Linked DNA regions of Homo sapiens. The protein of the gene in region 1 interacts with the protein of each later gene in a pairwise test. Each region holds a gene or a part of one and is shown in the gene's direction. Other genes may lie near its edges.

Region 1 (3,500 bases):
TTTTCTTTTATTGATCATTCTTGGGTGTTTCTCGCAGAGGGGGACTTGGCAGGGTCATAGGACAATAGTGGAGGGAAGGTTGGCAGATAAACAAGTGAACAAAGGTCTCTGGTTTTCCTAGGCAGAGGACCCTGCCGCCTTCCGCAGTGTTTGTGTCCCTGGGTACTTGAGATTAGGGAGTGGTGATGATTCTTAACGAGCATGCTGCCTTCAAGCATCTGTTTAACAAAGCACATCTTGCACCGCCCTTAATCCATTTAACCCTGAGTGGACACAGCACATGTTTCAGAGAGCACAGGGTTGGGGGTAAGGTCACCGATCAACAGGATCCCAAGGCAGAAGAATTTATCTTAGTACAGAACAAAATGAAAAGTTTCCCGTGTCTACTTCTTTCTACACAGACACGGCAACCATCCGATTTTTCAATCTTTTCCCCACCTTTCCCCCCTTTCTATTCCACAAAACCGCCATTGTCATCCCGGCCCGTTCTCAATGAGCTGTTGGGTACACCTCCCAGACGGGGTGGTGGCTGGGCAGAGGGGCTCCTCACTTCCTAGTAGGGGTGGCCGGGCAGAGGCGCCCCTCACCTCCCGGACCGGGCGGCTGGCCGGGCGGGGGGCTGACCCTCCCACCTCCCTCCTGGACGGGGCGGATGGCCGGGCGGGGGGCTGACCCCCCCCCACCTCCCTCCCGGATGTGGGGCTGACCCCCCCACCTCCCTCCCGGACGGGGCGGCTGGCCGGGCGGGGGGCTGACCCCCACACCTCCCTCCCGGACGGGGCGGCTGGCCGGGCGAGGGGCTGACCCCCCCACCTCCCTCCCGGACGGGGCGGCTGGCCGGGCGGGGGGCTGACCCCCCCACCTCCCTCCCGGACGGGGCGGCTGGCCGGGCTGAGGGGCTCCTCACTTCCCAGTAGGGGCGGCCGGGCAGAGGCGCCCCTCACCTCCCGGACGGGGCGGCTGGCCGGGCGGGGGGCTGACCCCACCTCCCTCCCGGACGGGGCGGCTGGCCGGGTGGGGGGCTGACCCCCCCACCTCCCTCCCGGACGGGGCGGCTGGCCGAGCGGGGGGCTGACCCCCCCACCTCCCTCCCGGACGGGGCGGCAGGCCGGGTGGGGGGCTGACTCCCCCACCTCCCTCCCGGACGGGGTGGCTGGCCAGGCAGAGGGGCTCCTCACTTCCCAGTAGGGGCGGCTGGGCAGAGGCGCCCCTCACCTCCCGGACGGGGCGGCTGGCCGGGCGGGGGGCTGACCCCCCCCACCTCCCTCCTGGACGGGGCGGCTGCCGGGCGGAGACGCTCCTCATTTCCCAGACGGGGTTGGTGCCGGGCAGAGGGGCTCCTCACTTCTCAGATGGGGCGGATGCTGGGCGGAGGGTCTCCTCACTTCTCAGACGGGGCGGCTGGGCAGAGACACTCCTCACCTCCCAGACGGGGTCGCGGCCGGGCAGAGGCGCTCCTCACATCCCGGACGGGGCGGCGGGGCAGAGGCGCTCCCCACATCTCAGACGATGGGCGGCCGGGCAGAGACGCTCCTCACTTCCCAGATGGGATGGCTGCTGGGAAGAGGCGCTCCTCACTTCCTAGATGGGATGGCGGCCGGGCAGAGACGCTCCTCACTTTCCAGACTGGGCAGCCAGGCAGAGGGGCTCTTCACGTCCCAGACGATGGGCGGCCAGGCAGAGACGCTCCTCACTTCCCAGACAGGGTGGCGGCCGGGCAGAGGCTGCAATCTCGGCACTTTGGGAGGCCAAGGCAGGCGGCTGGGAGATGGAGGTTGTAGCGAGCTGAGATCACGCCACTGCACTCCAGCCTGGGCACCATTGAGCACTGAGTGAACCAGACTCCGTCTGCAATCCCGGCACCTCGGGAGGCCAAGGCTGGCGGATCACTCGCGGTTAGGAGCTGGAGACCAGCCCGGCCAACACAGCGAAACCCCGTCTCCACCAAAAAAGTACGAAAACCAGTCAGGCGTGGTGGCGCTTGCCTGCAATCGCAGGCACTCGGTGGGCTGAGGCAGGAGAATCAGGCAGGGAGGTTGCAGTGAGCCGAGATGGCAGCAGTACAGTCCAGCTTCGGCTCGGCATCAGAGGGAGACCGTGGAAAGAGAGGGAGAGGGAGACCGAGAGGGAGAGGGGAGAGGGGAGAGGGGAGAGGGGAGAGGGAGAGGCAGAGGCAGAGGCAGAGGCCAGAATTTGTTTTCATTCTTTATTTTCTTTCCCTAGCTTTTTATTGTTGTTGTTATTTAGTTTTTATTTCATAATCATAAACTTAACTGCAATCCAGCTAGGCATGTAAGGGAACAAGGAAAACACGGAACCCAAAGGGAACTGCAGTGAGAGCACAAAGATTCTAGGATACTGCGAGCAAATGGGGTAGAGGGGTGCTCTCCTGAGAGGAGAGCACAGAAGGAATGGTCTGGTGGTGAAGACAAAACAAGTCAAACTTACTAGACTTATCCACAGTCAGCAATGGTGATCTTCTTGCTGGTCTTGCCATTCCTGGACCCAAAGCGCTCCATGGCCTCTGCAATATTCATGCCTTCTTTCACCTTGCCAAAGACCACATGCTTGCCATCCAACCACTCACTCTTGGCAGTGTAGATGAAAAGCTGGGAACCTTTTGTGTTGGGTCCAGCAATTGCCATGGACAAGGTGCCAGGACCTGTATGCTTTAGGATGAAGTTCTCATCATCAAATTTCTCCCCATAGATGGACTTGCCACCAGTGCCATTATGGCGTGTGAAGTCACCACCTGATACATAAACCCTGGAATAATTCTGTGAAAGCAGGAACTCTTACAACCAAATCCTTTTTGTCCAGTGCTCAGAGCACGAAAGTTTTCTGTTGTCTTTGGAACCTTGTCTGCAAACAGCTCGAAGGAGATGCGGCCCAGGGGCTCACCATCCACGGTGATGTCAAAGAACACGGGGTTGACCATGGCTGATAGTACAGGGCTCCTGGTGGTGGCAGCAAAGCCTCTTTGCCCAACTTTTTATATCTGTTTAGTTTTATCTATATCATTGTTTTCCTCCATTCATTTATTCTGAAATAACCCCCCCTCTTTTTTTTTTTTTTTTTTTTGAGATGGAGTCTCACTCTGTTGCCCAGGCTGGAGTTCAGTGGTGTGATCTTGGCTCACTGCAACCTCCGTCTCCTGGGTTCAAGTAATTCTCCTGCCTCAGCCTCCCGAGAAGCTGGGACTACAGGTGCCTGCCACCACGTCTGGCTAAATTTTGTATTTTTAGTAGAGACGGGGTTTCACCATGTTGGCCTGGCTTGTCTCTTAACTCCTGACCTCATGATCCGCCCGCCTTGGCCTCCCAAAGTGCTGGGATTACAGGTGTGAGCCACCGCGCCCAGCCACAAAGGATTTTTAAAAAGAGCTTTCTGGTCAGAAGTTGGCTTAACTAAAAGCTGATATTCAGGCCATATATATATATATTTTTTTTTTTTTTTTTTTTTTGAGACAGAGTCTCACTGTCACCCAGGCTGGAGTGCAG
Region 2 (3,500 bases), on another chromosome or scaffold:
TGGGTCCACATGTCACATGCTGGGGAAGGGAAAAGGAAGCTACTCACACTTTTCCCCCTACTCAGGATGCCACTTTTCAAGCCTCCAGACTGGGTGCCAGACCTAGATGGAATTCCCTGGCGTGTGTTGTGCATTTGGGCTGGGGCAGGAGAACTTAACTGAGGTTTCATTGTACCTCCACTATGAAGAGTAACAGGGCTGCACCTGCTGTCTTGTCCTTCTGCCCCTTTAATGTCAGCACTTTTGCCATAAACTTACATTTTAGGAAGGAAAATTTCAAATGCTAATACCACAGTTCAGCCACTACTTTCCTTCCTGTTCCCAGCCACTAGGTTTGTCACACTTACAAACTTAACCTCATTTGGGGAATTTGCATTTACATTTCTTGCTTAAGTATTTCTTCTGAAAGCAGTTTGTACCATAAGGTACTTGGGCAAAAGAAAGTAGAGAGACATTAGGAAATCTAGATTCCAGCCAATTCTGCTACCAATTTTGTTAGTTAAGTCATGGTGTTTAGTAGATGAGAGTGAAAGATATCAGATTTGTCCAAGTTGCCAGAGATGGAAAATGGATTCTCTCAAAATCTCTGCTCTGCCATCCCCTGCATCATTATTTTAGGGAAAGTATCATGGGAAAAGAAGTAAATGATTTAAGAAACATAGTGTGTTTGAGTTTGTGTGTGTATGTAATATGCATATGTTTTTGTGTATATGTGTTGGCGTGGATTTTCAAGACCTCGCTAGGGTCTTACCATCTTAAGTCAGAAAAACTGATAATCATCCTTTGATTTTCCTGTTCAACTAACATTCATAGATAGAGCAGCCACCTTTTGGAGGGGCTCCAGAATCACCACCTTCTGTGTGTAGAAAGTGCTCCTTGTTATTTGCCACCTTTCTCTATAGCACAATCCTGGAAAATTTGCTAGTGGTGGTTCTGGTGGGACAACTAATAGAGAACTTTGGTAAACTAATTTTGATGACTTTTTTTTCTTAATTCCATATTTTTAGTTTGATAATGCTGATGTTACAAGTTAACTTCCTTATGTGTGCCATGCACCAGAATTGGAATTAGAAATCTTTTCAGCATTATTGAGGGCCACAAAGAAATCTTTCTAAAGAATAAATAGAAAAAGACAACTCGTGTGGATAAAATAAGTAGAGAAGTTGCCTCAAAAATCACAAGTAGCCTGGTTGTGTCCAAACGTATGAAAATAATATCTAATGTAAAAAGAAAAGAAAAATCTTTCCTGTTTAGCTGTGCAGTCCCTTGCCCTATTCCTGTAGAGCCTTGTAAGATTCCTTGCTTTCTCTCCCGTTCTACATCCAGTTTCCAAGTCTTACATCTTTCCTCTGTCTCTTTCTTGGTCCATCCCTCAATGGCTGTGCTTGGAGTCTTTAGTCTTTGCCGGCCTCTAGTTTTGCACCCACCCTTTTCTCAGCCCCCTTGTATGGTACCCTCACTGCTAAGAAGATGGCCTCTCTCTGGTACAACAGTGATGACATTGTTTTCCTGATTGCCCATTGTCTGCAGGGTAAAGTCTTTATAATATGGCCCTTGACTGCTTTTTTCTTCTTCAGAGTCTTTCTGGACCCTGCAGCTCCCTTTGTGTCTGAAGCTTACAGCTTCCTCTTAACACCAGCAGTTTCCAGTTTTCCATGAATGTCCTCAGCCACCTCCCTTTAATGAGAGCACTATTTCTGCGCCATTTACTGCTGAATGCTCCTGCCTCAAGGGTCACCTCTTTCCGTGAAGCTTTTCTGACAGCCCAGCACCTTGCCTTCCCCTAGCACAGGCAAGGAGAAGCCTGGGACCCCTCTGTCCTGTCAGCTGCCCTTAATGCAGGATTGTATTTAATTGTTTCTGTGGTCACTTTGCAATTGGAATCGTATCTTACTCTTTTGCCTTTTTTTTTTTTTTTTTTTTTTTGAGACGGAGTCTCACTCCGTCACCTGGGCTGGAGTGCAGTGGCGCCATCTCGGCTTACTGCAACCTCCACCTCCCAGCTTCAAGCGATTCTCCTGCCTCAGCCTTCCGAGTAGCTGGGATTACAGGCGCCCACCACTACGTCCAGCTATTTTTTTGTATTTTTAGTGGAGACAGGTTTTCACCATGTTGGCCGGGCTGGTCTCAAACTCCTGACCTCGCGATTCGCCTGCCTCGGCCTCTCAAAGTGCTGGGATTACAGGTGTGAGCCACCACGCCTGGCCTTACCTTTTTAAATCTCCAGCAAATACCAAGAACCAGACATATTGTCAGGGCTTAAGTATTTGTTGAAGGAAAATATTATCTTATAGTTTTGCGTCGAAGTATACCTCATGGAGTGTTTTCGTTTATTCAGTTCCTGTTTTCTTACAAAATGTCTGACTTTAACTGTGTTCCTTTTAGTGCCTCCCTGCATTTAAGCACATTCCCATAAAAAAGTGATGACTTACTACTGATATTTTACAAACTTCTTTAGTGTTTAGCTTTGGTAGACTGTAACTAGTCACTGGGAAATAACTTAAAGGTATCACAAGAAATGTGATTTTTGCATCAGAGAACCATTTGATTTATAAGCAGGATTGTGTTTGCATATGATTTTACACAGGCATGATTTTAACAGTCTTTCTTGTTTTTTTTAAAAAAAAGTACAAGAAGAGGAAAAGAGGCCCAGACATACTCTGTTGAGCTCTCAAACAGTGGAACCTCACAGTGTTGTATATATTGCTATCAGACTCTGCCATGCCTTTATTTAAAGGAAAGAAAGAAGACATTTAATGGGAAGTGACAAGCTTCTTCGAATTCTCCCTCTCAGTGAGCAACTGAGAACCATGCATACTCAATGGATTTGATTTTTATTGGCAAATCCCAGGGTTGGCAGTGTGGCAGTTTAAATTTCTTTTTGTGTTTTTGCTTTCTCTCCTCAGTTGTCTCTCACTTGCAAGTCTGACATCACATGCATAAAAATATAGTCGATTTTACTTATTTATACCTTTGCACATACATGTCAGTATTCTCTATGTAATAATTCTTTACCTAGGCATCAGTTGCTCAGGAAAATTGACTTGGAATGTCTGCTCTTAGTTGACTTTACTCAGCAACAGGCAAAGGGAGGATATATATGGTGGGGGGATGGGGGTGACAAATGAGCTGTTAGTTTTATGACCCCTTGAGAAAAAAAGAGGTGATATTCGTTTAACTACATTTCAACTGTTAGGGATGCTTGTTGCCATTTTATTTGTATAGAAATTTTAAAATCCTGTCAGTTAATCTTGTCAGGATTTTGGAGCAGATTTTTAAATAGGAATATAGTGTGAAACTTCTAGATTTACTAATAGTTATTGGAGCTCTGCATTGCCGAGATATGTTCTTAATCTCTTGATGTTCTGTGAGCCATCTATACTCAGCACATGCCTAACTCAAAAGAGTTGTGGACTAGAAAATGCATACAGTATTGCAGCATCTCATCTCGAGATAGAAGGGTGGTCACACAGCCTTTTTCAAATGCTGCACCATTGGTC
Region 3 (3,500 bases), on another chromosome or scaffold:
ATTAGCCAGGTGTGGTGGTGCATGCTGGTAGTCCCAGCTACTTGGGAGGCTGAGGTGGGAGAATCACCTGAGTCCAGGAGGTGGAGGTTGTAGTGAGCTAGGATCATGCCACTGCACTCCAGCCTGGGCATCAGAGCAAGATCCTATCTCGGGGGGGAAAAAAAAAATGTAAATCCAGAAAAACAAATGAATAAAGGAAATGCTCAGGTTTTTAAAACGTGAAAAGGTGCTTGACTTCTCATAATGCAAATAAAAATTAGTTTTCAGATTGGTGAATATATAATACATGAAATGGTGAGAGTATGGAGAGAAGACAGGATTCATCTACTTTTTAGGAGGAAGTATAAATTGAGCAAACATTTTTGTAGGCATTTGGCAGTATCTACCAAAATAAATGGTTATGTCTGTTGCTCTAGCAGATTTATTGACAGGAACTTATTCTGTATATGCACATATAAAGAGGATATACAAGAATATTCATTGTGGCATTGTAACAGTTTAAACAAAAGTTTAGACATTCACATACAAGGAATACTATGAAGCCAATTAAAATATTTTGTAGGGAATGAACCAAGGTATAAAACAGTGCCGTATAGAGTAGGATAAAGAAGAATGAGTAATAGTAACATGTATTTCTTAGAGGAAATACAAGACACTGATCAGCTGTTGTTGGGGAACTGGGAGACTGGAGGTTGGGAATGAGGCTTACTTGTTACTTTATTATTTAATTTATTTTAATTAAATTAAATTTAATTTTTTGAGACGGAGTTTCGCTCGTCACCCAGGCTGGAGTGTAGTGGCGCGATCTTGGCTTACTGCAACCTCCGCCTCCTGGGTTCAAGCGATTCTCCTGCCTCAGCCTCCCGAGTAGCTGAGATTACAGGCCCCCGCCACCTCACCTGGCTAATTTTTGTAATTTTATTGGAGACAGGGTTTCACCATGTTGGCCTGGCTGGTCTTGAACTTTTGACCTCAGGTGATCTGCCTGCCTCAGCTTCCTAAAGTGCTGGGATTACAGGCATGAGCCACCGAACCTGGCCTGCTTGTTACTTTAGACCCTTCTTATGTTTTGTTTGTTTTTTCAGGGAAATGTTTTTAAAGAAAAAGTGCCCCTATTGCCTATTTAGTGCATTGGTTTGAATAAAAAATTGTTGTTTTACTTCTGCCTTTGAATGTGGCATTTTTGGACAAGGTTTGTCATTCCAGAATATTCTTTCCCTAAATAGAGGCATTACTGTACTGTTGGAAATTAAGCCTTTGTAATTCATTTTTTGATGTAGGCTTAATTGTATGCCTGATCTCAGCAAAGACTAACCATATACTCATATAGTATTGATTTTGTTTCAACTTGTTTAGAAATATTTGTTGCTTATTTTATGATGTCGTTTTATTCCATTGATTTGCAAAGTGATGTGATTGTATTTGGTGTGAACACTTTTCTTCAGTTGTTTTCTTGAGTTGTGTTGGTAGGATCACTTTCACACCTCTCATTGAGGAGGATGCTTTGTTAATTTTGTTTAGTTAGAAGGGAAAGAAATAACCAGGCTTACAGAAACTAACAGCTGTGTTTATTTTGATCTGGACAGATTTGGAGGCCAATCACTGCCACCTTTTATTTCCCTGTGGGTCCAGGAACTGGATTTCTTTATTTGGTCAATTTATATTTCTTATATCAGTATTCTACGCGACTTGAAACAGGTATGTTACCCATAGTTGTTTTAAGCATTGTTTCTTTCTCATTTACTAATCCATGTGTTTACTTTGGAGGAATTTGGAGGGCAGTTAGCATTACAAAAAGAAACTGCATAAAGATAGTAAATGCTTAGTGACTGTGCCAGGACTGCACCAGGCACTTAGCTTACTCAATTTTTAATCCTCACAACATCCTGAGGTATAAGTAGCAGTGTTACCATTTTATAGATGCAAAAAGTAGCAGATCAGAGGTTGACATGGCTTGTCCATCTCCTTAGTGGCTGAGCTGTGTGCCTTTCATTTATTTTGAGGGTCTCACTCATTTCTTTTGCAGCAGTCCTTGTCCTTCAGTGCAGAATTGGGCTGGAGTATATATGTCTCCTAGATTGGGGTTGAAAAACATCAATTTATGTAATTAAAAGCCTAGATTTATTCTCTAATTGAAAAACTCAACTCTAAAATACAGTATATAGCCAAGATTTAATAATATATGGTAGTTTATCAGGTATGAGTACCAATGTAATATTTTATTTTATTTATTTATTTATTTTTTGAGACAATCTTGCTCCGTTGCCCAGGCTGGAGTGCAGTGGTGCCATCTCAGTTCACTGTAGCCTCTGCCTCTCGGGTTCAAGCAATTCTCATGCCTCAGCCTCCTGAGTAGCTGAGATTACAGACACCTGCCACCATACCCGGCTAATTTTTATATTTTTAGTAGAGATGGGGTTTTACCCTGTTGGCCAGGCTGGTCTCAAACTCCTGACCTCAAGTGATCTGTCTGCCTCAGCCTCCCAAAGTGCTGGGATTACAGGTGTGAGTCAACGTGCCCAGCCAACCTATGTAATATTATGGATAAGTTCGAAAAATCTTTTCGTAAAAGTGTCTTACTGAATTGTCATTTATTTCCTACAATACCTTATATGCTGTCTGAGTCACTTATACTAAAGAAACAATACATCAATACACTGTGTTACAATATGGATATAATTTTGTTAAATTTAAATGACTTTGAAAAGGCTGACTGACTTCAGAGACTTTATAAACTTGCTGGCTGTTACCTCAGGATAGAGAACTCTGAACTACCCTTAAGTGTATGTAAGTCAGTGCTCATATGGTTGAGAATTGCGAATCAGTCTCATCACTGCAGGGAAATAGTAGGATGGGTATTTGATGTCAAGTAACATTTTTCCTTAAATTGGCATTTGCTTTTAGGTTCTTTTTAAAAAGAAAGAAATTGTATTAATACAAAGTGTAAGGTCATAGACTATTATATTACTATTGGGAGGAACCTAGTTTATTTCCTGAGTTTTACCAAAAGATGAATAGGAGATTCAAGGAAGTAAAGTAACTTGGCAGAAATGAAACTGACAACTAGGCCTCTCACCACCATATTAGGGGTTTGATCTTTAAATCTACCAGAATATGTGATTTTTATTCTCCTTTGTTCCAGTTGGACCCATAATGATACTGAGTGCTTAGCAGTCTGCCTTTCTGGTATAACTTAATTGAGCATTAATTTGTTAGAGTAATTTTTTTTTTTTTTGAGACAGGGTCTTGCTCTGTCACCCAGACTGGAGTATAGTGGCACAGTCATGGCTCCCTGCAGCCTTGACTGCCGGGGTTCAAGTGATCTTCCCACCTTAGCCTCCCTAGTAGCTACAAGGATGGGTGTTAAACCGCCACACCTGGCTGACTTTTGTATTTTTTGTAGAGATGGGGTTTCACCATGTTGCCCAGCCTGGTCTTGAACTCCTGGGCTCAAGAGATTTGCCCACCTTGACCTCCCAAAGTGCTGGGATTACAGGCGT
Region 4 (3,500 bases), on another chromosome or scaffold:
TCAGCCTGGGCAATATAGCAAGACCCATCTTTACCAAAAAATGCAGTAATAATTAGCAGAGGCGTGGTGGTAGGATCACTTGAGCTCAGGAGTTTGAGGTGGCTGTGAGTTATGATTGCACCACTGCACTCCAGCCTGGGTGACAGAGCGAGACCCTCGCTCTTTAAAAAAAAAAAAAAGTACACATTAGTGAGTGCCTGAGTGTGGGTCTGTTCTGGTGACTTGCAAGACAAGATGTGTTCAAGGGTATTCCGAGGGCACCTACCTGGGCAAAAAAGCAACTGATACACATATGTATTTAGACAGGGTATCACTGTGTCTCCCAGGCTGGAGTACAGTGGTGCAATCATGGCTTAATTTTTTTTTTTTTCTTTTTTGGAGACAGTCTTGCTCTGTTGCCCAGGCTGGAGTGAAGTGGCGTGATCTCAGCTCACTGCAACCTCCACCTCCCAGGCTCAAGCAGTTCAGCCTCCTGAGTAGCTGGGAGTAGAGGCACGCGCCACCATACCTGGCTAGTTTTTTGTATTTTTACAAAAATGCAATGGGTCTCACCGTGTTGCCGAAGCTGGTCTTGAACTCCTGAGCTCAGGGAATCTGCCCACCTCGGCCTCCCAGATTGCTAGGATTACAGGCGCGAGCCACTATGCCCCACCAAATTTTTAATTTTTTTGTAGAAATAGGGTCCCACTATGTTGCCCAAGCTGGTCTCAAGCTCCTGGACTCAAGTGATCTGCCCACCTCAGCCTCCCAAAGTGCTGGTACTACAGGTGTGAGCCACCTCGAGCTGGCATCTTTTAAATGACATTTCACCCACCAAAAACTAAAAATTTACCCACATTGCAGTAAGGAGCCCTGGGAGGTTGTGGAGCAGGGAGGATGAGGTGAAAGGCACTCGGGCACTCAGTCTGGCCTGGAGGGGCACCTTCCAACTCCTTCTCCCTCTGCCATTTTCCAGGAGACGCTGGTGAACCTGGCGGGGCTCTTGGTCAGCCTCCTGATGCTCCCTCTGGTGTCAGGTTGCCCTGGGTAAGCCGGAAGCAGGGTGGGCAGGAGAACCCCAGCTGGGCCTCTGCCCACTTCAGCTACCTCACTCTCTCACCCCAGCTTCAGCCTTGGATGTTTCTTCTTCCTCACTGCCCTCCACATCTACGCCAACTACCGCGCGGTCCGAGCCCTGGTCATGGAGACCTTGAACGAAGGCCGGCTCCGGCTGGTCCTGAAGCACTACCTTCAGAGGGGAGAGGTACTCGACCCAACTGCAGCCAATCGCATGGAGCCGCTGTGGACAGGTGACCCTGCCCCTGGTCTCGGGTCCTGTGTCTCAACCTCTCCCACTGCCTAGGCATCCTGACCCCAGCTTCCCACAGGTTTCTGGCCAGCTCCGTCTCTATCCCTGGGGGTCCCCTTACACCGCTTGGTCTCCAGGTGAGTGGCCTAGCGTCTCCCGCTCGTCACCACCGCCACCCACACTCCCCTCACTCCGATTACACACTGGCCTCCCTGGCAAGGCCCCACCTCTCTGTCCTGGGTTCTTCATTGCTGCTGAACAGACATGGGGTTGGTGTGGGTGTGTGAGGAAGGAAAGGGTGTATAACATGAAGCAGATGTAAGAGATGTGCTTGATGGGTGAAGGAAGGATGGGTAGATGGGGAAGTTGGATGACTGGATACAGGAAGAAAGGATGGATTTGGTGTGTATGGGTAATGGCTGAGGGAGAGAGGAAGCGAGGGGACCTGAGTGAAGCCTGGATCATTTCAGTTCACTGGGTGGCTGTTCAGTGGCTGGTTGGGCATGCCTGCCTTTGCTGTCCTCCACCCCCACTGCACTGTCCTCTCCCCCACAGTGTCTTTGAGCTGCAGCAGCTGGTTGAGGGGCACCAAGAATCCTACCTCCTCTGCTGGGACCAGTCACAAAGTGAGTGTGCCTCATTCTCCCAGCCTAAGACGCACCCTCCCAGGTCAGCCTCTCATTCCTCCAACCTAGGGCCCCGAGCTCTGGGCAGTTTGGAGGCTGCCTGTTCTGGGGGTTGCTCTAGACCGTTCAAATTACAGCTGCAATGCCCCAGTGAAATTCATGTCACCGCTTTGTAAAACAGAGCTAACAGTACCTGCCTTATTCCTTGCGGTGTTTTTATGAGGATCAAATAATGTGACTGCAAAGCTACATTGCAGCACTCTTAGGAAGGCTATGACCTTTGCTGTCCGTGGGAAACCACCCTTCTCTCCATCCTGGGTTGCCTCTTGGGTAAACAAGTCCTTGAGTGTGCTGGTCCGCTGGTTGAGTGTGAAAAGGTGCTTATTCTCACTAGCCATTAAAGAAATGCAAAATAGACCCAGCCCAGTGAGCGGCTGGGAAATTGTATTTGGAAATTGGTCAGTTTGGCCCGAACATTGGGGAGCAACAGGAGATGAATTGGAAAGGAAAGGGTGAGGTGCTAGCCTTCCGTGCCAGGCCAAGGTCTTGGGGCAGACAGGGGAAGCAGGGTGATGGGATAGAAGGGGTTTGGGAGGTGGCCCTTCCCTGATACCAGTCTGTCTCTGGGTCCCTCCAGACCAGGTACAGGTAGTTCTGAACCAGAAGGCAGGCCCCAAGACCATCCTAAGGGCCGCCACACATGGGCTGATGCTTGGGGCCCTGCAGGGAGATGGACCCCTTCCAGCAGAGCTGGAGGAGCTGAGGAACCGGGTGCGGGCAGGTAAGTGCCTCAAGATTTAGACTGCTGATGCCTCAGGGTGGGGAGGAGAGAGGACAAACTCTGTCCTGCTGGAGGACACAGAGCTTCTGGTTCTGCACCCCCGTACCCAGGTCCTAAGAAAGAGAGCTGGGTCGTCGTCAAGGAGACACACGAAGTGTTGGACATGCTGTTCCCAAAGTTCTTGAAAGGTAACATCCCTCAGCCCATGGCTGCTTGGCCCCTGAAGCCTTGTCCCTGGGGGCCCCGCCTTCCCCCACTCCCACCCTTTCACCTGAAAGGTAAAAGACTTGGGTTCTTGGGCCTGGTGCAGAGGCTCACACCTATGATTCTAGTGCCTTGGGAGGCCTAAGTGGGCAGATTGCTTGAGACCCTGCCTGGGCAACATGGCAAATCCTTGTCTGTACAAAAAAAACACAAAAATTAGCCAGGTGTGGTTCTGCTCTTGTGGTTGCAGCTACTCAGGAGGCTGAGGTGGGAGGATCACCTGAACTGGGGGAGGTCGAGGCTACAGTGAGCCATGATTGTACCAGCCTGGGTGACAGAGCAAGACCCTCTCTCAAAAAAAAAAAAAAAAAAAAGACTGTCGGGCACAGTGGCTCACACCTGTAATCCCAGCACTTTGGGAGGCCAAGGCGGGCAGATACTTGAGCTCAGGAGTTCAAGGCCAGCCTGGGCAACATGGTGAAACCCTGTCTCTACCAAAAATATAAAAAAATTAGCTGTGCATGGTGATGCACGCCTGTGGGACTGTCAGGAGGCTGAGATGGGAGGATCACTTGAGCCTAGGAGGCAGAGGTTGCAGTGA
Region 5 (3,500 bases), 2.1 Mb from region 1:
GTAGATCATTGACTCACAGATTTCCAAGCAAGCCCTCAGTGAGATTGAGGGACGACACAAGGACATTGTGAGGCTGGAGAGCAGCATCAAGGAGCTTCACGACATGTTTATGGACATCGCCATGCTGGTGGAGAATCAGGTAAGTGGCAGTGAGTCCCAGCGTGGGGAGGGAGGAGAGGAAAGCTCAGGGTCTACTGAGAACAGGGAGAAAGGGAATACTGGAAGCCAGTGAGGTAGGGTGGGAGAACCATTGGGAATTTGCATAAAGGAGAAACAGAATCCCATGGGAAAGTGTGCATTCAAATTGAATGTTGACACTTTGGGTGATCTTAACCTTGTCATTCTTGCCTGTCCCTTTGGCCTTGCAGTCGTTGCTAGTTGATACAGGGTTTGATGTGTTCTGTCAAGTACCCAGTTTTCCTGGATTTTTGATTTTTTTTTTTTTTTTAAGATGGAGTATTGCTCTGTTGCACAGGCTGGAGTGCAGTGGCGTGATCACAGCTCACTGCAGCTTGACCTCCCAGGATCAAGCAATCCTCCCAGGATTTGTCTTTTTTTCTTTCTTAAAAATCAGAGATCCGGGCTCCTAATGGTGACGTTTTAAAACAGCCTCCTGATATGGACTAGTTCACTGATGACATTGAAAATGTGATCTTTTCTCTAGTTCACAGGGAAGACTCAGGTTTAACATAAATTTTTATTTTTTTCCATTTTTTTTCTGTTTGTATTTTTTTTTAATTTTGGCACCTTTTGCTAAGGCACAGAGCAGACAACAACATGAATGAAGGAGTAGCAAAATAGCATTGACAGAAAGACTCGAAACACTCGTGGTGCTAGTTTGACAGCTTACTTTGTCCCAGGCATGCTTGCTCGGGATAGAATTCTGGATTGCCTGCATAGGGCGCTAGTTTCGCATAGTTAGATGGTTCCTAGTTCTTATGGGACAGTTAAGTGTGCCACAGGGTCATGGTGCTGTGCACTGTTGCCATGAACTTCCAGCTGCTCTGACACTTGGGATAGGAGAGAAAATTGCTTCCATAGTAGGCAGACTGCACAACCTAGTTGAAGCTCGAGCACAGCTTGACTAGTTTTTGACATTGGTTCCCTGCCGAGGGCCTGGATGCTTTCCCCCCATTCCCTACTGGCCTCTGAGACCATTTCTCAAGTCCCTCCATCCCACCTCTTCTTTTCCCCCACACTGCCTTGCCGAGGAACTGGCTTGAGATTCAAGTGGTGGTAAGTGCCTTGTTCTGTTTACAGACTGCCATAAAGTGATAGAGTTGGGTTGGGTAGTTGAGGAGAATTCCTAAAATGCCTAAGATTAATTGGAATGATCAAACTTCCCTGTCAGGAAGTGATTGCTAGGAAATGGTTGGGAAGCTTATCAAGAGACCACTGTCTGGAAGGGAAAATATAACCAAATAGCTTGGGTAAACCCAATGTCTGTCAGTTAAAGGGCCTGGAAATAACTTAGAGAAAGCAAATGTTCCCCACCTCAGATAGTTATTGAGCACCTACTGTGTGCCAGGCACTCTTCTGCAGTTAGTGAATATACTCAATTCAGGCTGAATGATGTTGATTCAGGTCTGAATGACCAGGAAGAGGCCAGCATCCTAGTGATGTCCTAATAACAATGAGATATCCTTATTTTGGTTCCTCTCCATGTGCTTAAGTGTAAAAAAAATAACAAAGGTTGTCTGGGGATATCTCAGAGTATATTTATAGGTAGTTACTAGGTATCTAGATAGTATGTTCTGGATGCCTGGTGGAGTGCTGGTCACAGAGAAGTAGTAAAATTCACTGAATGTTTCTTGAACAAGTGACTGCCACCCCACCACCAAGGACTGTGAATGGGTGTCCTATGGAAGGCCATGCATCAAGGTTTGTGGATGCTCTTCTTGCCACTGAAGATTGTAAGAAAGAGAATCCCTTCCCCGCATTGGCTAGGACTGACCTGAGACGTTTACTTGGTGTGATCAGAGTCTGTTCTTTGCAGGGTGAGATGTTAGATAACATAGAGTTGAATGTCATGCACACAGTGGACCACGTGGAGAAGGCACGAGATGAAACGAAAAAAGCTGTGAAATACCAGAGTCAGGCCCGGAAGGTGAGACTCTCCTGTGGCCTTCAGAGAAGAGAGTCCATTTTGTTTGCTGTGTCTCGCTCTTTCTCTTCCCTCTCCCTGTCTCTGTTTCTGCTGCCACCACCTCTTGCATCTGGGGAAAGGGATCCATGATTGACCGTATTGAGAACAACATGGACCAGTCAGTGGGCTTTGTGGAGCGGGCCGTGGCAGATACCAAAAAGGCTGTCAAGTATCAGAGTGAAGCCCGGAGGGTGAGCACCTTCATCTCAACTGTCCTTCGTCTCAGCTGTCTTACTAGTATCTCTTCTCCCTGGCCACCCCTACCTGTGTTCTTGAGCCCATGCCTCCCTCCCTGTCGTAGCCTCATCAACCCCTCCCTCAGCTTTTCCTAGAGACAAGCTGCCTGCCCTTCCTTCCCAGGTGTGCCTTGCATGGATCTGGCTCACAAGCTATCTCCCCAAAAACCCACACTTGAAAGGCAGTTCTGTAGGATGGATGCATGGCCCAGGTGGTGCTGCTAATCTTCTCCTGGACTTAGCTCATGAGGCTTTCAGATGTTACACTTGACTCCTCTGTTCAGAAACCTTCTCTTCATTGTCTTCCACTCCAGGCGCCCAAGCTCCGCCTCCCTTCTCTTTTTCTCTACCTTGTACCTAGCTCATGCTAACTGCTATCTATACATTATGTCATATCTGATGGAGCACCTGTTATTTCTACTTTATAAATGAGACAGTTGAGGGTCAGGGGCTCAGTAACTGGCTTCAGGCCACCTAGTAAGTAGAGGCACTGGGATTCAAGTTCAGATCCCAATCATTCTGTTTCTACCACACCACTGTATTTGCCCACCCTCTGGTGCCCCTGCCGCTTAAGGACTTCTAGGCTTCTGTGCTCACGACTGTGGTTATCCAGCTCTGGTGGCGTCTGCTTTTTAGACTTCTCTCCTTTGACTGGTTCTCTTGGGCTCTGATATTGTTGTTGTTTAGTTCTTTGTTTTTCATCCAACTTTACCTATTGCTTATGCAGGGATTTAGGGGACTGGGAAGTTATTTTACATGGTGAATCCAGGCTGGGTGGCATTTTCTGATATCCAGGCAGTGTACTGGGTCTGACAGGTAGGAGTATGGGCAAAAGTAGGAAATTAGAACTCTATCAAAAATGCCTTTACATTCCCTCTTAAAATGGAAAAAATCAGTCAGTGACTTTTTATCTTGGCCAACTGCTCCTTAGAGACCCCACGATAGTGGCTCTGATTCTATCTGTCCACATATACAGAACTGCAGTGTGAGCTGAGAGCTGAGAGAGGCCCCATATTTCCCTCTGCTGGCATTCCTAGCCTAGAAGTAATTTAAGAAATTTAAACTGTCCTAGGCTGGGTGTGGTGGTTCACACCTATAATCCCAGAACTTTGGGAGGC
Region 6 (4,060 bases), on another chromosome or scaffold:
AAGCCCTCTCTACATCCAACATGACAGAAACCCAACATGACAGAAAGTATGAGAATGGTTGGAAATTGCTGAAACAGCAACAGTAAAGATTTAATGAGCTCTCAAAGTACCTCTAGATGTGCAAATATGACAACCCAATAAAAAGAAACACACACATAACCTAGAGCCTTCAAAAATCTAGATTTCTGCCTTTCCACACCTTAACTTGGAATCATTCAGGTGGGTTCCTAAGCATTCTCTCGGAGGTGAGGAATCCTCCAAAGAGGAGACTCTAGGAGGGGCCCAGGTGTGGCAATCTTCAAAAGGATGAGGGATGTCCAGAGGAGAGGTGGCGGGAGGGTGCACTTAAAACACGCGAAAATTGGAAACGTGCCTTCTGCAGTCAGTTCCTTCGGATTTTCCGGCATTTAGAAGCCAGTTCTACTCCTTCAGCCCGACCGTATCTGCAGGTCTCACCCAAGACCAAGACCCCCGCCCCCACCCCTCCTCCACCCGGCCTCGAGCCCCGCCCCGGACGCTGGACCCGAGCGTAACGGGAGCAGGTGTTCACATCAAAGGTCTGGGTCGCGAAGGCAGAGACTCCATGTGCCGCAAAAAAAACTCCACGGACAATTGGGAGACTCCTTTCAAAAAAACAAAACTCCGGAGCCACGCGACTCCGCGCTCAGGGGGCGTGGGTACGGCCCACCACGAGGGCAGGGCTCGGCGCCAGCTCTCGGCAAAACTAACAATATTTGTTAGGCCCTAAACAAAAAGGCCCTAACAGCGATAAATCCATTCACTTCGGGAGTGTAGCAACCTGGGACACCAAGCGCCGCCCACGCCCCAGCTACGCGCCTCAGGGACACATCGATTGAGGCGCGGCTACTTTCGCGCACGCGCCTTGCATGCCCGTGCTTCGCCCTTACAGCAGAGCGCCTAAAACCGCTACGGTGGCTCTGCTGGGGACAAATTATTCACGTCCCACTGTTCTGCAAACCCAATCCGGGAGGTATGACCTGGCTGGGACAGTTTAGGAAGATGGCCACGAAGGCACCTGGGGGAGTAGATATATGTTTTTGAGAATGAGAGGAGTAAATCGCTGGACGACCATGAGCAGGAAGAAAATTAGGCCTCCACCTCCCAACCAGTGGCCCTGAGTTGGCAACTTAGACAGCGCGCGCCAGCGCCAGGAGCCCCGCCTTGGGGGCGTGGCCGCGCGCTGGTCGGCTGGGGCGGGGCCTGCTTCTGGCCTCATCTAGCCCCGCCCCAGGCGAGGGCGCCGCACCCACACCGCGCTGCGCAGTTTTGTTCTGCTCCAGCTGTTCGAAGGTGATCCAGGTGAGTGCTAGCACCTGCGGGCAGCCACGAGCACCGGGCCGCCGGGGGCACTTCAGCCTTTGCGCAGGGCACTCCCATATTTCAGCCTATGCGAGCTGAATAGAGACCCGCTGTCTCTAACCTCCCCCCACCCTTATCAGTAAATTAGCGATCTGAATTTCCACCCTCTCTGCTCTCCCCTTGCCTTGCATCTTTTCCCTGGTGGAGTGGGTTGGGAGCGTCTAAGCGAGGCCCGACCTATTTATGTGTAACTCAGGAAAATTCTCAAGGTCAACCCTTCCTCCATTCCTTCCTTTCCTCTCCTGCTGTCCCCGGGCTCTGCAGTCTGGGGGCACCTTTCTGCCTTCCGGAGACCACCCGACCTTGCCCTCTGCTGTTCCGGCGCAGAGGATGGCGAGCCGGACACTGCCGGGGGAGTGGTTGTGCAGGCCTGATCAGTAACACTGGTTTCAGAAGTGGCCTGTGAGCAATGCACCCGCTGCGGTGGGGATGTGTTGCTAGGGACGGTCGGGAGAGCCTCTGAAGGAATTGTGTTTGTTTTCCTCCTGCCTCTTAGAATCGTTTGTCCATTTGTACTGGGAAGGTGGTCATTTCCTACCGCTGACTTAGAGCAAGAGACGCCTCTAGGCGGGTGGGGGACTCTTCAGGTTCTTCCTTGGATTTCAGAAAATGCCCCTTCTTTATGTGGGGTGGCAGCACGGAGCCGTAGGGCTACAGTAGTGGGGCAGTTGCAGGGCGGTGGAAGGCGCTGGAGACTCCTTAGTGAGTCATTCCCCGAAGTTGTGGCTTCTGCTGATACTTTCCTTGAGAGTCACGAGTTTACAAGCTACATAATAGCGTCGGGGGCAAGTAAGTGTGGAAGACGAGGTAAAGGAAAAGCAGATACTAGGATGGGTAGAAGGAGAGGCAGGGGTTAGAACTTTAATTCCTTCCCTGGGGACAGGAGATGCCCTGGAGGGGAAGGCGCTTCCGGCTCTGCAGGTATGTGCTGTTGGGCCTAGGTGTGGTCCTGCGGAATTGCTGCAGATTTTAGATTGCTGGTGGGTAGGAGCTGCAGCGCTTCTCTTGGGAAATCTGTAGATCACCTGGAGCCAGCAGTTCTGGGAGGCACCCCAGGTTATTGGTCAGAGTTACAGGCTATATTTTATTTCAGTGAATTCAGAGAGCACATTGAGTCAGATCAAGAATGTTTATTCTCATAGGAGATGAATTTAAGGAGTTAAAACTAACATATAAAATAGAAACAAATACTTTCATCCCTGGGAAGACTTTCCGTTAAGCTTCCCTCCTGACACAATGTTACGGAAATAGAAAACTTTGTCAAGTGATTTTTTTTAACCAATGTTACTATATATAAATCTGCAGGGAGACTGTCGCCAACTATAGAAACTGCGCTACAGGGGCCTCCTTAGATTAAGGAACAAAACTGGAGAAGGGCAGCCTTCCGCTTTATTTAGATTTCTTCCTGTTGGCTTAGAGTTCTGAAAAGACACAATCCTGGAAGAGATCCTCCTCGCCTGGAGATTAGCACCGAGAAGGAACATACAGGAAAGAAGGGCTTTACCCACTATTCAGAGAAATGCTAAAAAGCCCCTGGAGCAGTCTGGAATGAGGTGGATGTCAAATCAATCTGTCAAAAGCAATTCAGTGCCTACTGCACATCTATCTGTATTTAAACATATTGTGCCCTATGTTTATACTTAAATCTTCTGAATCTATATTTAGAACACCATTACCGACCACAATTGACCATGAACCATCTAGCATTTTAAAGCAATATTTGTTTCGAAGAATATACTGCTACGGTTTTTGCAGCTCAATTTATTAATGCTACTGTAAGCTTACCATCTTCCTGAACAAAAAATTTAGCAGTTAGCAGCAAGTAGATTATCGCTATGTAAAATAAAATTCCTGAGTTTCTGTCACTCGCTCTTACAGTACCTACCTGCCTACCTGCCTCTGAGGAGAAACGCTGTAATTAGGCAACAGGAAAATTGTACTATCTTTCAAATGCATTTGCAAATGCCTTTAAGGATTTTATCCTTTAGAATCATAGATCTTGCTGTTACCTTCTGAGTTATTTCTAGAGTTGATCTGTTCATTAACTGGAACTTGCGTTCTACGATTTAGTTGCCTTATTTCCACCCTTCATTTTTTTTTATTTTTTTAAAGCAAAAATTAATTTTTTTATTTTTTTATTCCACCCTTTAAAAATAAGTAAGTGATATTTTATTTTATAAATAAATGAGCAAGCAATGGGAGCGGTTGTACCACAGCTTCATTCTAAGTGTAGACAGGCATGAAAAGGTCGAACCCCTGTTTCAGGCAAAAGCCAGCAGCCTAGGTGGTTCCTTCCTTTGGGGTGGTTGGTACCCTAACGGGCATTCAGCAGCTGCTACAAATTAACTACAGTCTGCCTGCATTTCTTGTAATAGAAAATTACCAAGTGGTGTCAATGTGACTCATTCGAGATTTTTTTTTTTCCTTCTGGAAGTCATAGCTTAGTTTCTCAATGACTCTTGGTTCCTATGTAATGCCAGTTAAGGGACAGCTATATGACATGATATATAAATGAAGTGCCAGTTTCTGTGTTACTTTGCTCCTTGCAAACCTATATGCCTGAAAGATTGGAGGAAGTTTTTTCCTTCTCGTAATCTCTACTTCTTTTGTCATACTGCAGTGCTGACACTCATTAAAAAGAAAACATTCCTTGTTTGGAACTTTCCCAAAGTTTTTTTTT
Region 7 (3,500 bases), on another chromosome or scaffold:
GATGAGATGCAAAAAATATGATAAACGTCAATGGGCAGCTCCCTCATCTGTCCATTTCTTGGACTCTTACCTACACAAATGAATTAGTTAATTAAAAGATCTGGCATATTACAAGCTAATGTTGGAAACTGTACCTGGATCAGTACCCATCAGAAATCAAAATGAGTACACTTCAAGGATTCTAGGGGCAGAATTTCCACAGACAATTCAGTGCTGCTGCTTCTCTTATTACCTTACCTTTCCCCTGCACCCCATTGTTATTTTCATGCAATTCTCTCTGCAAGTACTAACCAAAACTGAGGACAATTATTTTGAAAATGAAAATAGGATACTTTGGCAACTTAGGGTGTTAAACATATCTCTCTTCTGAGCTTCTTAGAGTTTGAGCTGAAAGACTGGAAATATGAAAAATTCTACTTTATTAAAATCCTGGCTTTAGGGCTTTTCTTTTGAATGAAACACCACCTCAGTGGAAAGTATTAATATTGAGTTAGATGTATAGGCTTTGGAACGTAGTAGTTATAATGGTACCAATCATTTATTAAATTTGTATTGTCTACTTGACACATTGTATCATTTATCTTCAGAGCAATTCTACAAGTCGGTGCTTTTATTATCTTCTACCTTATATAGGTGAGGAACTTTCTAAGGCTTAGAAAGTTGAAATAATTCATCCAAGTTTACATTACTGATGGAATGCTTATTTCAACAAGAGTGTCCACATTCTGAACCACTAAATTATGTTGTCTCTGTTCCACCAAAATTCCTAATTTCATACTGCTTGTGTTGGAAAGTGTGTTAATTGACTTCTACTTACCTGTGAATTGCTGAATGTAATCTCTGAGTAATTAACATCCTTGTTTTTCTGCCTGTAGGTCCGTGGGGAAGGTGTACAGGAGACTGTGGTCCCGGAGGAGTCCAGAGTCGGGCAGTGTGGTGTTTTCATGTTGACGGGTGGACAAGTCACCTGTCTAACTGTGGTGAGAGCAACAGGCCTCCAAAGGAAAGAAGTTGTTTCCGAGTTTGTGACTGGCACAGTGACCTCTTTCAGTGGGAGGTTTCTGACTGGCACCACTGTGTGCTTGTTCCTTACGCTCGCGGTGAAGTCAAGCCTCGGACTGCAGAGTGTGTGACGGCTCAGCATGGACTGCAGCACCGGATGGTGCGCTGCATTCAGAAGCTGAACCGAACTGTGGTTGCAAATGAAATATGCGAACACTTTGCCCTTCAGCCTCCTACAGAACAGGCTTGCCTCATTCCTTGTCCCCGGGATTGTGTAGTATCTGAGTTCTTACCATGGTCCAACTGTAGCAAGGGATGTGGGAAGAAATTGCAGCATAGAACTCGCGCGGTCATAGCTCCCCCTCTCTTTGGTGGTTTGCAATGTCCAAATCTGACTGAGTCAAGAGCCTGTGATGCTCCCATTTCCTGTCCTCTTGGGGAAGAGGAATATACATTTAGCCTTAAGGTTGGACCATGGAGTAAATGCAGACTGCCTCATCTTAAAGAAATTAATCCAAGCGGAAGAACTGTTCTGGATTTTAACTCTGATTCAAATGAGCGAGTCACCTTTAAACATCAAAGTTACAAAGCACATCATCATTCGAAGTCTTGGGCAATAGAGATAGGTTATCAAACCCGGCAGGTTTCGTGTACAAGAAGTGATGGACAAAATGCTATGTTAAGGTAGGAGACCTTTGATGCTTGAATTTGATTCACCTAAAATATTTTATAGTGCAACTTTATAAAGCTTCTTTATGATTTTCTACAAAGCGAAAATGGCAACGAGGTTTATAATTTAGGTTTTTAGAAGTTTCATGTAAGAAATTTTTAATTTCACTGGGAGGTTTTCAAAATTGCATAGTTTAGACCAAGCAGTGTTCTAGCATTCTTGTGTGATTAGTAATGCAATTATATATATAGGATAAGTCATATATTTCCACATTTTATCAAGACAGTAACTAGTATAAAAATAGATCTGCCATTACAACAGTGATAGAAGACTAAGGGGCTTCTCATAATGATAAAAATTCAAGTTCAATTTCAAATGTGGGATATGAATTATGTAAATATTTTTGTTTTTCAGAACATTTGTCCTTTAAAATTTTATTTTTGTTTTTATTTGTTTACTTTTGTTTCCACTGTTATCAACATTCTTTGACATCTGTGTTGTACATTTTTTATACTAGCAATAATACCGAAAAGTTGTTCCAAGAGTGCTTTCTTTGGCGTTATTTTGATACAGGTATTAACTTGCGCAAGCAGTAATTAGAATGACGTACTGGAGAAGAAATAAACTATTAAAGCAACAGCTTAGGTTTCAAATTTATGCTTGTTTTATTTTAAATTGTAGTCTAAAACATCATGACATAAACTCACAGAAATATATTGAAAGTAGTATTTGTTTAATTTTACCTCAGAGGGTCTTAAATGAAGCATTTGTGTATTACTAAGTTTCTTCCAAATTAAGATGCCTTTCAATAGTACTTAAATTACCAAACAACATAATGCTTGTCTTTAGAATTAATCATTCTCATCAGTTGCTGCCTTCTTGGGATCCACAGCTGACCAGGAGATGCCCAGAAGACTACCACTGTTGTTTATGAACAAAGTAATGTGATGATTGTTTTTTTTTCCATTTGACTTCACAAATGAGTATATTTTATCCTTGATACTTCATTCTGATTTGTGCCATATGAAATTAGCAAGTCCACTGAAGAGTGATTTGCAGCTTTTTATTGCCTACTTCTTTGAAGTCCAGATTAAGCAAAAGATTCATGCAATTTGTTTGAATGTGTGTGGGGTTGTGTAAATACATTGTTTTCTTAATATTCCGTACTGTATTGCTGAAGTGAGCATTACATAGAATCTTTTCATTTTGTTTGTGCATTTTTGCAGTGTTTTTCTTTTTTTAATAGACTTGATTTTTCAGATCAATTTTTAAATTTTCAGAAAAAATGAGTGAAAGTACTGAGTTCCTGTATACTCCCTGTCTCCAACATATAGTTTTTTCCTATTATTAACATCTTGCATTCATGTGATAGTTTCATAAACAAACATTTCATAGTTACATACACAAACATTGAGTGCATAACACAGTTCAAATTGTGTTCCCCTCCCCAAATTTATGTATCGAAATTCTAACCATGAGTGTAATGTTTTTAGGAGGCATGGGGCCTTTGGGAGGTAATTATGTCGTGATGATGCAGTTCTCATAGATGGGATTAGTGCGCCATGAGAGCTTCCTCTCACTCTTTTTCTGCCATTTGAGGATACAATGTGAAGTCAGCAGTCTGCAAGCCAGAAGAGAGAACCCACCAGAATGTGACTATGCTGGTACCCTGGTCTCAGACTTCCAGCCTCTAGAACTGTGAGAAATAGATTTCTGTTGTTTTTTAAGCCATCCAGCTTCTGGTACTTTGTTATAGCAGCTTGAATTGCCGAAGACTAACTGTTATAAAAATAAATACCATAGTTTGGGAATTTAAATGAGAAATTTA

The links.
Region 2: the proteins of TMX2 (region 1) and INSIG2 interact in binary tests that used the Homo sapiens proteins (3 or more experiments, as listed by UniProt).
Region 3: the proteins of TMX2 (region 1) and DERL1 interact in binary tests that used the Homo sapiens proteins (3 or more experiments, as listed by UniProt).
Region 4: the proteins of TMX2 (region 1) and RUSF1 interact in binary tests that used the Homo sapiens proteins (3 or more experiments, as listed by UniProt).
Region 5: the proteins of TMX2 (region 1) and STX3 interact in binary tests that used the Homo sapiens proteins (3 or more experiments, as listed by UniProt).
Region 6: the proteins of TMX2 (region 1) and MGST3 interact in binary tests that used the Homo sapiens proteins (3 or more experiments, as listed by UniProt).
Region 7: the proteins of TMX2 (region 1) and THSD7B interact in binary tests that used the Homo sapiens proteins (3 or more experiments, as listed by UniProt).

What each region holds. Positions count from the first base shown.
Region 1 is NC_000011.10:57,715,593-57,719,092, forward strand, and holds part of TMX2 (thioredoxin-related transmembrane protein 2 isoform 1 precursor), read left to right. Parts: intron 1-2,256; exon of another isoform or gene 2,257-2,974; intron 2,975-3,500.
Region 2 is NC_000002.12:118,098,471-118,101,970, forward strand, and holds part of INSIG2 (insulin-induced gene 2 protein), read left to right. Parts: intron 1-3,500. UniProt on the Homo sapiens protein: Oxysterol-binding protein that mediates feedback control of cholesterol synthesis by controlling both endoplasmic reticulum to Golgi transport of SCAP and degradation of HMGCR.
Region 3 is NC_000008.11:123,028,803-123,032,302, reverse strand, and holds part of DERL1 (derlin-1), read left to right. Parts: intron 1-1,546; exon of another isoform or gene 1,547-1,586; coding exon 1,587-1,698; exon of another isoform or gene 1,699-2,073; intron 2,074-3,500. UniProt on the Homo sapiens protein: Functional component of endoplasmic reticulum-associated degradation (ERAD) for misfolded lumenal proteins. Forms homotetramers which encircle a large channel traversing the endoplasmic reticulum (ER) membrane.
Region 4 is NC_000016.10:31,491,392-31,494,891, reverse strand, and holds part of RUSF1 (RUS family member 1), read left to right. Parts: intron 1-955; coding exon 956-1,026; intron 1,027-1,104; coding exon 1,105-1,289; intron 1,290-1,367; coding exon 1,368-1,425; intron 1,426-1,843; coding exon 1,844-1,914; intron 1,915-2,551; coding exon 2,552-2,695; intron 2,696-2,805; coding exon 2,806-2,883; intron 2,884-3,500.
Region 5 is NC_000011.10:59,793,376-59,796,875, forward strand, and holds part of STX3 (syntaxin-3), read left to right. Parts: intron 1-4; coding exon 5-139; intron 140-1,996; coding exon 1,997-2,107; intron 2,108-2,226; coding exon of another isoform or gene 2,227-2,337; intron 2,338-3,500. UniProt on the Homo sapiens protein: Potentially involved in docking of synaptic vesicles at presynaptic active zones. Apical receptor involved in membrane fusion of apical vesicles.
Region 6 is NC_000001.11:165,629,974-165,634,033, forward strand, and holds the start of MGST3 (glutathione S-transferase 3, mitochondrial), read left to right. Parts: upstream 1-1,260; 5' UTR 1,261-1,320; intron 1,321-2,257; exon of another isoform or gene 2,258-2,266; coding exon of another isoform or gene 2,267-2,301; intron 2,302-4,060. UniProt on the Homo sapiens protein: Displays both glutathione S-transferase and glutathione peroxidase activities toward oxyeicosanoids, as part of cellular detoxification as well as synthesis of bioactive metabolites.
Region 7 is NC_000002.12:137,055,545-137,059,044, forward strand, and holds part of THSD7B (thrombospondin type-1 domain-containing protein 7B precursor), read left to right. Parts: intron 1-875; coding exon 876-1,686; intron 1,687-3,500.